Linked DNA regions of Homo sapiens. The protein of the gene in region 3 purifies or fractionates together with the protein of the main gene of each other region. This does not show direct contact. Each region holds a gene or a part of one and is shown on either strand. Other genes may lie near its edges.

The links.
Region 1: the proteins of ERMAP (region 3) and SAR1B purify together in Homo sapiens (affinity purification with mass spectrometry; one large-scale study listed by BioGRID and IntAct). This does not show direct contact.
Region 2: the proteins of ERMAP (region 3) and AP3B1 purify together in Homo sapiens (affinity purification with mass spectrometry; 2 studies listed by BioGRID and IntAct, with this or other methods). This does not show direct contact.
Region 4: the proteins of ERMAP (region 3) and AKAP11 purify together in Homo sapiens (affinity purification with mass spectrometry; 2 studies listed by BioGRID and IntAct, with this or other methods). This does not show direct contact.

Annotation. Positions count from the first base shown.
Region 1 is NC_000005.10:134,605,329-134,608,828, forward strand, and holds part of SAR1B (small COPII coat GTPase SAR1B), read right to left. Parts: intron 3,176-3,500; coding exon 3,044-3,175; intron 1,739-3,043; coding exon 1,622-1,738; 3' UTR 1-1,621. UniProt on the Homo sapiens protein: Small GTPase that cycles between an active GTP-bound and an inactive GDP-bound state and mainly functions in vesicle-mediated endoplasmic reticulum (ER) to Golgi transport.
Region 2 is NC_000005.10:78,221,699-78,225,198, reverse strand, and holds part of AP3B1 (AP-3 complex subunit beta-1), read left to right. Parts: intron 1-3,500. UniProt on the Homo sapiens protein: Subunit of non-clathrin- and clathrin-associated adaptor protein complex 3 (AP-3) that plays a role in protein sorting in the late-Golgi/trans-Golgi network (TGN) and/or endosomes.
Region 3 is NC_000001.11:42,842,849-42,845,775, reverse strand, and holds the end of ERMAP (erythroid membrane-associated protein precursor), read right to left. Parts: coding exon 2,544-2,927; 3' UTR 785-2,543; downstream 1-784. UniProt on the Homo sapiens protein: Possible role as a cell-adhesion or receptor molecule of erythroid cells.
Region 4 is NC_000013.11:42,299,652-42,303,151, reverse strand, and holds part of AKAP11 (A-kinase anchor protein 11), read right to left. Parts: coding exon 1-3,500. UniProt on the Homo sapiens protein: Binds to type II regulatory subunits of protein kinase A and anchors/targets them.

The DNA of each region.
Region 1 (3,500 bases), on a different chromosome or scaffold from region 3:
TTTAAAAATACATTTTTGGCACTTACCTTTCATCTTATATTACTAATGATGGGAATCTCAAACATATAAAAAAAGAATTCAGTTTCTTAGGAAATTATAATGCTTTTGAAAAACTAAAATTTTCTTAGTAAGCCTAGCAATGAGGCTTGCAGGCCCTATCACATGGCAAGCATAATATCTAAAAACAAAAGTCAGGTCAGGCATGGTAGCTCACGCCTATAATCCCAGAACTTTGGGAGGCCAAGGCGGGCAGATCACTTGAGGTCAGGAGTTTGAGACCAGCCTGGACAACATGGTGAAACCCCGTCTCTAAAACAAAATGAAACAGAGCAAAAAAAAAAAAAAAAAAAAAGCCCAACAAACAAAAAGTCTTTGTTGTATGGAGTAAGAACTACCTGAGAGCAAATAAGAAAAAAGAAAATTGGAAACAAGCACTTGTTTTCTTCTACCAGGATATAAAATATGCCAAAGAATACAAAAGAGCTATAGGATAGGAACAAAATCTCCACATATCTCAGACTGACACAGAACAAGCTGTTTTATTCCTCAGATATACATGTCTCTACAATGAAACTGCACACAAGGTCCTACTTATTGCTTGCCCCAGAGAGTACTGTTAAATGTACAGAGACTGGGAATATATCTAAATGTGGAGACACTGGTGCCTGTCATTGCTTTTGGGGAAGAGGCACAGATTACCCCATTGGGCACCAATAAGACTGGAGCACTTCAGAATTAGACAGCTGGGATGGAACTATAGAGCCTACCAAACTGAGAATCAACCTTGTGTACCATAAATGTGCTTTTCTTCAGAAGGCCAATCCCACAGGGACTAGGACACAGACCCCATCAGCAATGGTAGTGGCTGCATTACTAATAAAAATACACATGATTCAGGGATACATGGTATCAGGTGCAACTGACCACAACCATCTCATGGTAAATACCTAAGCCTTGAGAGCCTTAAACGCTATTCTAAATATTCTGAAGGAATCTCCTTTCCCAACAACCACTTCATATGCCTAATATTAAATACTCAAATTTTCAGAGTATACTAGCTAGATAAGACACATTTAAATGAAACATTTGCCCAACAAGGATGCCAAACATTAGAGTTTGTTTTATTGCATGACGTTTGCATAAGAAAAAAAGTTATTGAAAACTGTAAGGCATCATGCAATCATTGAATAAGCTAATTATTAACTGTACACTTAAGATAGGTGGACATATAATCTAAAATTTAAAAACTAGTTCCAGAAAAGTACATAAAAAATTTAACATGATGAGCTTTTAAATATGGTTTATAGTTTCATGTTGTTAAAAAGTGCTTCAAATGTACTGCTGGAAAGTTGCTCTTTACAAATGGCGCTGGGGTGATGTCAGATTATAAACTGTAAAAACCAAGTACTTTTATGGAATTAGAAAGCTAACATTGTGATACTCAAACTTACTTGAATCAGTTTTCAATTCTCATTCAAATTAAGTTGATTTAATATTAATAATCTAAAAAACATCTGTTTTATAACCAGCAAAAGTCTATTGAATTCAAGTTATGCATGTTGAGCAATCAAATCTCTGAGTAAGCCTGAACGTTGAGACCTGGAACCAATGTGAGTTTGTGTTAATCAATGTACTGTGCCATCCAGCGGAAGCCTTCTCCGTAACCTTGTCTTTTGAGCACACTACACATGAAAACTTCTAAGGGTCGGGCATTCAGTTCTTTCAGAGATATACTCCCCTAGAATAGAAGAGAGACATTTCGTTGGAATTTTATAAAATTAATAAAGCCCCACATCCCAGCAGAATTATAGGTTCTATTTTAGAACAAAGAATGGCTGTGATAAATCCATGACTGTGATAAAGTCGTGGCTGCTTGGCATCCAAGCCCCATGAACACACAAGAAGCCTCCTTCTCTCACTCTACCTTAGGGCAGGATGGCCACTCAGTGGGAAAGAGGTTAGCTTGCAAGATACCCAAGAATAAAAATAATCTGACTTAGAAAAAAATCCAAACTGGCTTCACTAATATTAAAGACAAACATTCCCTGAGAAGGTTTATGACCAAACAAAGCATTTCCTAAAATTAATATCAAGCTAATTTATAAAAAAGAAGACAGAAAACAGACCAAAGTCTACTTTGTCTGACTTAAGAGCCTCCTGCGGACCGGGCGTGGTGGCTCATGCCTGTAATCTCAGCACTCTGGGAGGCCAAGGCGGGCGGATCACCTGAGGTCAGGAGTTCGAGACCAGACTGACCAACATGGAGAAACCCCGTCTCTACCAAAAATACAAAATTAGCTGGGCGTGCTGGCACACGCCTGTAATCCCAGCTACCAGGGAGGCTGAGGCAGGAGAATCGCTTGAACCTGGGAGGCAGAGGTTGCAATGAGCCGAGATTGCACCATTGTACTCCAGCCTGGGCAACAAGAGCAAAACTCCATCTCAAAAAAAAAAAAAAAGAGCCTCCTGCTATATGCTGCAGTATTTCTCCACCCTGAAATAGTATATGTAAACTAAAAAAATTTTGTAAATCTCTGGGGTTCTTCCACTGTTTATCTGGATTTTTTCAATGCTGATGTTTCCCCCAAAATAAATCCTAGGAAAAGTGAATACCAAAACAATCCGTCTTAAAGCTTATTATAAAGTATATGTTCAGAAAACCGTAAAATATTCCAAGTTTATGTCTTATTTATCTCTGGTAAACTCAGGGCCTAAACACACTACTGGTATACTTAAACACTCAAATATATCGTTTGGTGGCTAATTCTGAAAATGTATGATAAATAACTTTGAAAGCTTTAATTTAGTTTCCTATAAGCACAAGCCTTAGGCATAACTCATCCTTGACATTTTTGTTGTCACCAAGAAAATGTTTCATTCCATGGTAGAAAGAAATGAGGACATTAAAAAGACCCACAGGTATAAATGACAGTTTTCTTTAAGAAAATGATAATGGGCTTGTATAGTTGGACAATAGTAATTTAAGAAGACATTTGTACTGTAGAATTAAACACACCCATCATAATTTTTTTTTTTTTTTTACCTTTCCTGTTGTCTGACCATATAAACCAAACATCTCTCGCAACCTCTCTTCACTGATGGCTTCAGGTCTGTCGATCTTATTCCCAAGAATCAGTATAGGCACATTAGCAATGGTTTCATCTGTCATTAGTGACTGAAAAAAACAAAACAATACAAAACAAGAGTTGATATGAAACCATCCAAAGAGCTTATTTTGATATGATAAAACAATAAAGGACTCATTTTCTACCATATCATGTCATACCAACGTTCTTTGTCAAACTTTCCCCACATTTTAAAGTGACCTCAATGAAACCATAAGCTAAATTCTTCTGTCTTCCTAAGGCTCTTCCTGTAAATGTTTACTCTGCTCATCCTTTAAAGGAGTGACATAGAACGTATAGAGCCAGCACCTTAGAAGTGAACAGATGTGGTTTCACTTCTGGCTCTACTGCTTTTGAGATGTGACTTTGGGCAAG
Region 2 (3,500 bases), on a different chromosome or scaffold from region 3:
TTGTACCCACTTTATATTTCTCAAAACTACTGAGGAAAAGGATTCCAGCTCATCTTAGGATGCTATCATCAGGGAGTATGTACTATCTATGCATGGCAGCTATCTAATACAGTAGGCAGTAGCCCTGTGTAGCTGTAACTATTGGTTTATGGCTTAGCATTTGATCTATCCTGGATAATGTTCAATAAACATTTGATTAGAATGTGTATTCTGCTGTTGTTGAGTGGAGTGTTCTATAGATATCTGTTTTTTAGTGTTGTTCAAATCTTCTACTTTGCTGATCTTATGCCTACTTGTTCTATTCATTATTGAAAACAGGGTATTGAAGTCTCTTTAATTCTGTTAGTGTTTGCTTCATCTATTTAGGAGATTGGATGTTTGGTGCATGTATGTTTATAATTTTTTTAATCTTCCTTTTGTCATTGTAAAATGTTCCTCTTTATCTCTAGTAACATTTTTTTGTTTTAATGTCTGTTTTGCCTGTTATAAATACTACTATTCTAGCTTTTTTATGGTTGCTGTTTCCATTATATATCTTTTTCCATCCTTTTACTTTCAGCCTGTTTATATTTTTGCATCTATTGTATGTCTCCATAGACAGCATATAGTTGGCTCTTGTCTTTTTATCCAGTTTGCCAATGTGTGCCTTTAATTGGAATGTTTAATCCATTCACACTTATTGTTGTTATTAATATAGTTGGATTTTAAGCTGTCATTTTACTTGCTTTTATATGTTTCATGCCTTTTTTGTTCCTTATTTCTCCTTTATTGCTTTTTCTTAGATTAAGTGAATATGTTCTAGTGAACATTTTAATTCTTTTCATGGTTTTTTTACTATATATTTTTGAAAATATTGTCTTATACATGGAGATTATACTTGTAGTTTCATTCCTAGACCATTTAGTAAATTTCTGTTAGTCTGTAGTGTACCAGAAATCATTATTGCATTTCTTCTATGCATAGTTGGTATAACGTAGGAGGTAACTAAATATAGATTGATTATAAATGAAGATAGAGAAAAGAAATTTGATTCCTTTTTGTCTTCTGTATGACAGGCATGCTATCTGCCAGATATGAAGTCAATATTATTAATATTATGGTTAACTTGATTTTAATAATTTAAAAAAATACTTAGTGCTTTTCTATTATAAGTGCAAGAGATTGGCTAAGTACCATGGAGAGTAGTAAGATCTACAAGAAGCAGATCTGTCATTTTAATGAGTTTTACCATCATTTCTGCTACATTATAGACTAAGAGAAATTCTTTGGATGGCCTGGGAATGAACTCTCTCTGTATAATATGTGCATGTCTTCCCAGACAGGATACAGCATATCATAGGTAAAAACAATAGCGTTTGAATCAGATAGAACTGGCTTAATGTCTGAGCGTCTGCCACATAGTATATGTACCAATTCTTTATGAGTTTTAGGCTCCAGATTTGTAGGGTTTATAATATCTAATTTATAAATTTGCTGTTTGTGTCGAGAGAAAGAACTATTGTATATAAAACCCTCAGCACAGTGCCTAACACCACATGGGATGTGATTAAAAATTCCAAATAAGAAATAAGTACTCAAAAAGATGTAAAGATACAATATCTGTGTAAAATTGGAATGTCTGTTTCCAAAATACACCAGAAAGTAAAAAATATTGAATACTTGTTCATCACAGGTATTTAATATTTGTTGAATGACTGTTGAATTAATTTGTTACATTCTTGGTGATAGTAATTAAGTGTGTAGTATCGTTTTTAATGTCTCCCTCACCCCCCTGCAGTGGTTTCATGCTCAGTGTTCATAGGTAGATTCTTTGGGGGCTTTGGTGGCCTACCCTTTGTGAGGCACTCATTTTTCCTAAAGTGTTATATACTATATGTTTATTTTTTTTAATTAAGAATACATATTTCTTTTTCTGTCTATAGTAAAAAACAAAGTTTTTACTGACACCTGTAATTCTGGTGGTATAGCACAGAGTTCCTTCCAGCCTCCTTCCTTTTTATATTTGAAACTGCCTATTCAACATTAAGAAATGTGGCTCTGGCCACGCACCATTGTTCATGCCTGTAATCCTAGCACTTTGGGAGGCCAAGGTGGATGGATTGCTTGAGTCCAGGAGTTCGAGACCATCCTGGGCAACATGGTGAAACCTTGTCTCTACAAAAAAAAAAAAAGAAACAAACAAACAAACAAAAAAACAAGAAACAGGGCTCCTATTTCCACAATCTGTTTACATTTTTGCTGAGTCTCAGAATGCAGAGAAACTATTGCTTCAGAATTGCTAGCACTGTACCTCTGTGGGGTATACAGTAGCATGGGGCCTAATAATTAGAGTTAAATATTTAATTAGAGTTAAATATTAGTTTAGAGTTGTTTTTGTCTTTAATCTTTTTTTTAATGTATGGTAAATCAAAATTGCTTCAACTATTTATATCTTTGAACTCGTTGTGTTGGTATGTAAGAAAGCTATTGATTTTTTTTGAGTGATAAATTTTATATTCTGCTTTTTTACTGAATTCTTCTATTGTTTGAGTTAATTTTCTCATTCATCCTCCTTGGGTTTTTTTTTGCATGACAAAGAGTCTTTACTTTTAAATGATTATCAGTACACCAAGTAGTAACATGTAACAAGTTCTTGAATTCTGTCCTCTTTGATTAAGTAACTAAAACTGGCCCAAACAATTATACTAGTGTTCATTGTTCTAACCACTAGCAGGAATGGACTACCAGATATTGCAGAAAAAGGCCAAGACTTCACCCCTCTTCTGCCTAAACTGCTTCCAGATGGTTCTCTTCTCCTGGGTCTCCTCTACTTTAATGCTGCAGCTGCCTTGGGATCGCAGGGCAGCAGCCTCCTTGGCCTTGAACTCTTTCTCCCTCTGCAGGCAATATTGTTCAATTTCACCTTGAACTGCTGCTTTGGCCTGCTTCTCCCTCCGGTTCTTTCACTGCAGGTCTCAGACACCCTTTTCAGCAACCTGCAGCAGCTACTGGATCCCCTGAGACTGACTGGCCATGACAGCACCAACTCTGAGGCAGAAGCAAGCAGCCTAAATCTCTCTCTCTTTTTTTTTTTAGAGAATGAATCATATCTGCAAATAGAGATGTTTTACTTCCTCTTTTTCAGTTCCTAGAACTCTAATTTCTCTTGCCTAATTATATTGTTTAGTGCCATCACTACAGTTGTGTTCAATAGTAGTGGAGATGGTGGGCATTCTTGCCTTGTTTCAGTCTAAAGGAAATGCTTACATTGTGTTTGCATTAAGAAAGATGCTGGCCCTGAAGATTTTATCTTTGAAATATAGTACTTTTGCAAGGTACTTCAGGATTACTTGATATGGGTCAATTGTTTTGCCTTGGTACTCAGTGAGTCCTTTCAAAATGTAGATTCAGAATTTTTATTATCTCTGGCAAAGTGTTTTTTTTTAAGATTATAATTTTAAATATTAATTCTGTTATTTTTTTTCTTTTTCAGGGATTCCTATTTTATGCACATTGGATCT
Region 3 (2,927 bases):
AGCCATTTGGAGTACCAACTCCCTCCCCCATAAAATCCCTGGCAGAATTACTGTGAGGATATTATATATACATACATATATTCTCATGCATGTGTATGTGTATACATATATACATATATATGTATGTATGTTTTATATAGTTGTAAGGTTATAATACATACATATATTGAGGTTATTTCTTGATGACATTAATATTCAAATCAGTAGACTGATATGTATGTACATATATACATGTATAATACACATACATGTGTATATACATATACTAATGTATACATGTGTATATACATGCATACATGTGTGAATATGTATTATACATACATATGTATATATGTGTATACATATACACGTGCATACATGCTAAATACATATACATATATATACACCTATGTAGTACAGATATGTATATACACATACATGTATACATGTGTATATGTGTATGTATGCATATGTGTGTGTATATTATATGTATATTCATGTATGTATGTGTATATGTATGCATGTATTCTGCCTCCACAAGCTGACAATGTGAGTTAGTTTTAAGATTGGGATATTCAGGAATGCATGTTTGGAACTGAATATGGTTGAGTGAAATATGTGTGCCTTATGAACACTATTTGTTTATAAATTGATAAAATAAAATACTAGAGAGCAGACTCAGGAATAAAACTATGGCTTTAGTATGAACGGTGGCTAAACCTTGCCTTGGGGGACTCAAAGCTCTTTGGAAACCAATCTCTTACCTTCCCCACAACTCCTCATTCACAATGAAAATAACAGCATACCAAAACACAAATACCAAACTTTTATTTTAAAACTGTACAAAAGCAAACAAAAAATTCCACTGAGTCACTGTGATAGTTAATCTTATGTATCCACTTAACTGGGTCACAAGATGCCCAGCTATTTGGTCAAACATTATTCTGAGTGTTCCTGTGAGGGTGTTTCTCAATGACATTAACATTCAAATCAGTAGACTGAGTAATGCAGACTGTCCTCCCAAATGTGGGCGGGCCTTGCTGAATCAGTTGAAGGCCTGAATAGAACAAAAGAGCTAACTCTGCCCTAAGAGAATTCTTCCTGCCTAATAGCCTTTGGACAGGACCATCAGCTTTTTCCTTGCCTTCGGACTTGAATTAAACATCATCTCTTCCTTGGCGTCAAGCCTGCTGCCATCAGACTGGAACTAAACCATCAGCTCTCATGGGACTCCATCTTGCTGACTTATCCTGCAGATCTTGGGATTTAACCGCCTCCATAATCACGTGAGCCAATTCCTTATAATAACCACCGCCCCCCTGCCCCAATATATATTGATTCTGTTTCTCTGGAAAACCTTGACTAATACAGGAACTAACGGAGAACTTCTGACAAACAGAAAGATACAGTTTCTGTTGGATAGAACTGTGTATTCATCTGCAAACTGATAACCAATATCTCCATGGTTAGGCCAGATCGCATATATGATGTGACTTGAAAGCGACGAGGCTTCTGCAATACACACCCAAAAATCAAGGTCATTATTTCATCCTCACACCTAGTCTACCAACTTCCTATTTGAAATCAATACTCTCCAACCTAAGAGGCTGTTTGCTACACAAATACTCAAGTATTGCAGTACAATGGTCTTGTGGGGAAAAAAAAGCTTCTACGTTGGTGGTTAAAACTGCCACTTTTTCTAGCTGGACCTCTCTGAATCTCAGAAAGGGTTGGCACAACAGATTGATTCATAAGACAGTCACAACAGACTCAACAGACTGAGCCTCTGAAGGTCTGGGCCAAGGTCAGAGGGCAACATACAGCTGAGTTCTCTGCAACTGTGTTTCCCAGCTCCCTGATGTGCTCCTGGGGCTTTTCAGGATTATAGCAACTGTATTTAAAGTCGCTGTACCTAGTTACCATCAACAGGCAGATTAGCTTTTGAAAGCATGTACATTAGCTCTGGATATCACCAAACTATGTTGTAAACAGCATCAAGAAAATAGAAAAGGATGGTATGTTTTACTCATCAGCCTTTCCCAATTCATTCCTGAAGAAAGAGGGAAAGAGTGAGTGGTCTAAAACATGCTTGCTTTTAGAGAGCTGACTTTGGGGGGCAGAGGCCAGAACTGAGAGAGAGAAAGGCAGTCCTCAATGGGATAAGTAAGAAGTCAGGGACTGGGGGCCATAACTTCTTGACTAAAGCTTGAGGGCAGGATGAGGCAGAGAAAGTGTCTTCTAAATAACCCCTGGAGTAGCGAACTCTTTTCCCTGAACCTGTGCTGTATCTTGGTAACACATATTCAACATCTCCACCTGCACCTAAACTGATTGTTTGGTTTCCAGGAATCCTCCCTCCAGGTCACTGGGAGCTTCAATTCCTTAGAAGAAAGGTAAGCTTCAGAACTGAGGCCTGGGAGAAAAGTGGTACAAATAGAAACCACAAAAGGGTCTGGATTTGGGTTAAGGTGAAGAGACGTTCCATAATCATGGGGTTGGGCCAGGCGACTGAAGTCCAGGGTGCTGGGCTGGATGGTGATGGGAGCAGGTAATGTGGCATATCCCTAAAAAGAAGGAGCCTTGAGCTCCTGAAGGGCTGGGCCAAGGTCAGGGGGCAAGGACAGGATTATATCCTTCAGCTCTGGGGCCTTCGGGGGTAGTAAAGAAGAGTTCACCTTGAGGGACACATCTCCATTAGCATGGCCTTTCCCTTCTGGCCTGGGGACAATTGATTCCTCTGATTTGTGTAGTTCTGAACAAATGACTAGAGGTGCTGTGTTTTTTCCTCCATCATGAAGGCAAGGTTCAAAGAAAGGGCGAAGGGGGCCAGAGAAATTGTGGGTGAAAGTAAAGATGTGGGACTTGTTGGTCACATTGTAGAAAGAGATGACTCCTGCTTCATAGTCCAGGAAAATCCCCACACACCGTGGAGGCTCTTTAAGGCGGAA
Region 4 (3,500 bases), on a different chromosome or scaffold from region 3:
CATCTTTTGTTATGCTGTGAACCAGAGAGGTTGAAAAACTATACAGTTGGGAGACCTCATTTCTATATGGATCCAGGGTCCTTTCACAAGTTTGATTTTTACAAAAGTAACCTTCATTTCTTTTACTTTGTCTCTTTTTGTCTGCTTCTTGGTGGTGCTCTTTGTTTGAAAACATTAACAGTTCCTTGTTTGTTTTCACTTGTGAACTTGGCACAGGGAACATTCTTGAGTTGCACTGCACTTTGGTTGTCTTAGCTGCTTCCTGTAATCCTGATTTAACAGATCGGTAGGCAAGCCTATTGGCATACTGATCCATTATCAACTCACTATTACCACCTTCCTGTTTTAGTATCTGAATAAGGTGACCTGCATATTCATCTGTCACACTTTCACAGCTGGGATACTTATACATCAGACCTGACATACAAGAACTTGGTGGTAATGAAAGAATAAACGGATCCACTTCTCTTGGGTGCACTACAGCCTCTATATCCAACTTCTCTTCTACTTTATAATCTTCGTCACCATCAGCATAACAACTGTTCTTCTTTTGCTTGAAAAGCATACAATTTCGGACTTTTGCTATTTTCTCAGCTTCTGTAATGACTTCTGCTGCCAGATCACCCGCAAAATTGCATAATGTTTTCAAATTTTCGTCTGAGGGGTTTAAAAAAGTAGGCGACACACTTCTTTGACTTTGCACATTTAAGCAAGGGTTTTTAACCTTGGGTTCTTGAATTATTTTGTTATCTAAATGGGAAGCTGCCATTTCAGTTGCAAGAGAAAGGATGTGTGTAGCTAATGCTTCTGCAAACTGAACCTTCTTCCCTGAGTGCTCCGACTTCACATCCACTTCTGGGAGCTCTCCACTTTCACTACTCTCAACTTCTTCAGAAAGAGATCGCATGAGTTTCAACATGAACTCTTCTTTTTCTATAGTATTTTGTTCATTCTCAGACAAACTACCAACAGATGAGTTGTGTGGAGTAGAAGGTGGTGTAGCAGGTGCAAACTCTTTGGCTAATTCTCCCTTGAGCTTTTTAGTTAACTTCTTGATATCCCATTCAGAACTAGCCCGGGATGGTACTAGAGGAGTTGATGGAGGAGTATCAGGTATTACATTTCTGTCTCTGACTTTCTGTTTATCTTCCACATGCAAACCATCTACACAGGTAAGTGCTGTAGATGAGAAAGTATGTGAATGAGGAAAGGGGTTTTCCTGTCCAAAAGACAAGGCCTCAAGTGATGTACTATTCAAGTTATGCTTTTTCAGTGGTTGATCCTTAGCAGATTCCTTCAAGTCAGATTTCTGACCTGTCACAGCTGGACAAGATGGCAGTGTCTCTAGGGAGGATCCATGAACCATAGAAACTTTACATTCTGGAACACAATCCTTTGCAGCTGAAAGTGAGCAGTGAGTTAACTGATTCTGAGAGTCAGGAAATTTGGGAGACTTTTCTGGTGTCAACTGTGATTCTTCTCCAGAAACAGGCAAGCTTTCCTTGTATACTGCATTTTTATCTATATTTGGGATCACTGATTTGCTCTTATCTATGGAATGTTTAATAATAGATTTAGATAACCGGTCAGCAAACATGTCCTTATTGCTACTAGCTTCACTGCATTGCAGCACTGCCTGATCACAGTGGGAAAATGGAGGGGTTTTCTCCTTTAAAGATTTAGTTAAATAATCTGTACGTTCATCAACCATTTTTGTAACTTCCAATGATGTCATTGACTCTAAAGTTTCATTTACTATCGTATGCACCACTGCTGCAGAAAAGTTGCTAATAATTGCAGGATCATTTGGTAATTTTGAGGAACTCTGCATTTCAATATCGTCATTAGTTGGTTTAAAATCATTCTGATTACCTGGATTGTGTTCTGAAGGTAAACAAATATTTCTGAGACAAGCTGCTTTTTCTTCTCTGTTTTTTGTGGCAATATGCACTTGGGCAGAATCACCATTTGAATTACTATCATCAGATGACAGATGAGCCTTGGCCTGACATGCAGTAGATGAAATATGATATGGGAGAAGGGCACTTCCTGCCAAGGGCACCGGTATAGAAGTAACAATTCCAGAAGTACAAAACAAGGCCTGCTGCACTGTGTATTCCTTTTTATATTCCTGCACTGGTTTTGTCACCATAATTGCTTGATTGTGAAAAGAAGGGGAAAACGTGACAGCCTGTGTCGATGGCACTACACTTTCTGCACTCACATACTTGATATTATCCGTAGAGACACTAACTGCTGCCTTTGTTGTAAAGGTCACATCAACTTGTGATAGCTCAATGAATGCTTCCTGTATTACAGATTCAGACAAATCTTTTGCATACAACTTCACTACTTTGTCTTCAAAGTCAAACGACCCACACTGTGGAGATGCAGGCGTTTGAGGATATGAAAACTGACACACCTCCATGATGCCTTCAAAAACAAGCTCTTCAGCAAGATCTGCAGCAAACCTAGCAACTGTGTTTGTGAATATCTGCTTCTTTACATACTGTAAATCTTTTAAGGCATTTGATAAAGCTTCACTCACCAAAAAGTTAGCCAGGCCACTAATGGCACGTTCTTTTAGTGAAAATGCACGCTGCCTTCTCAGCTCATCAAATGCCATCTGCAAAACAGATGATGTCAATTTGATGGCTAAGTGGTACAAAGCATTGGTACATGAAGAGACTCCTTTCTGTAAGTCTTTAAATGCACTGCCAAAACTTTTTTCCACAAGATCTGCTGCAAATTTTTGAATGCTATCTTTAATCATTAAGGATTTATTTTTAGATTTATTTTTTTGATCAAGGTTTCCATGCTTAAAAGTTACAGTTTTATTTTCTCCATGTTTAATACTGTTAATATTTGATAGGGTATTAGTATGGTGGGTACGAAGAACTGAGCCTAGTACTTCACATGAAATGCTTTTTGCATAGTCTTCATAGGTGTAATAAACAGAATCATGATTTTCATGAATCCTATCTCCACCAATATCTGTTTGGCAAAAACATTCAGCTGGAGTACAGCCTCCAAGAGGACTAAAAGCAGAGGATCGAATAGGACTAAATAAACCACTATCTTCCCTTGATGCCTTCACTGGGCGAGGAGAATCCGGAGCATCACACAGGTTACCATATGGAGATTCTGGTTTACGAGGAGTTGGCTTTCTAACATTAGCTGGGAGAGCTGGACGATCAAACTTGAATTTTTGAGGATTCATACATGACTTTCCATGTTTGTGCCCTTTCCTCTGCGATGACTTCCCTATGACGGGATCTTTGTTAAACAGGCAAGTCTCTAAAGTTTGTTCTAGTTCATCAAACTGATCAAAACTATCAAAAAATTCACTTACTTCTGAGTCTGAATCCTCTATATCATCTTTCATCACAGGAATTTTAGGCAGCTCAAGTTTTGCTTTTAAGCTTTTTTGATATCCCTCTTCATCCAAGAAAATAACAGGACTTGGACTTGAACATTCTGATTCAGATGAGTAGGCAGGA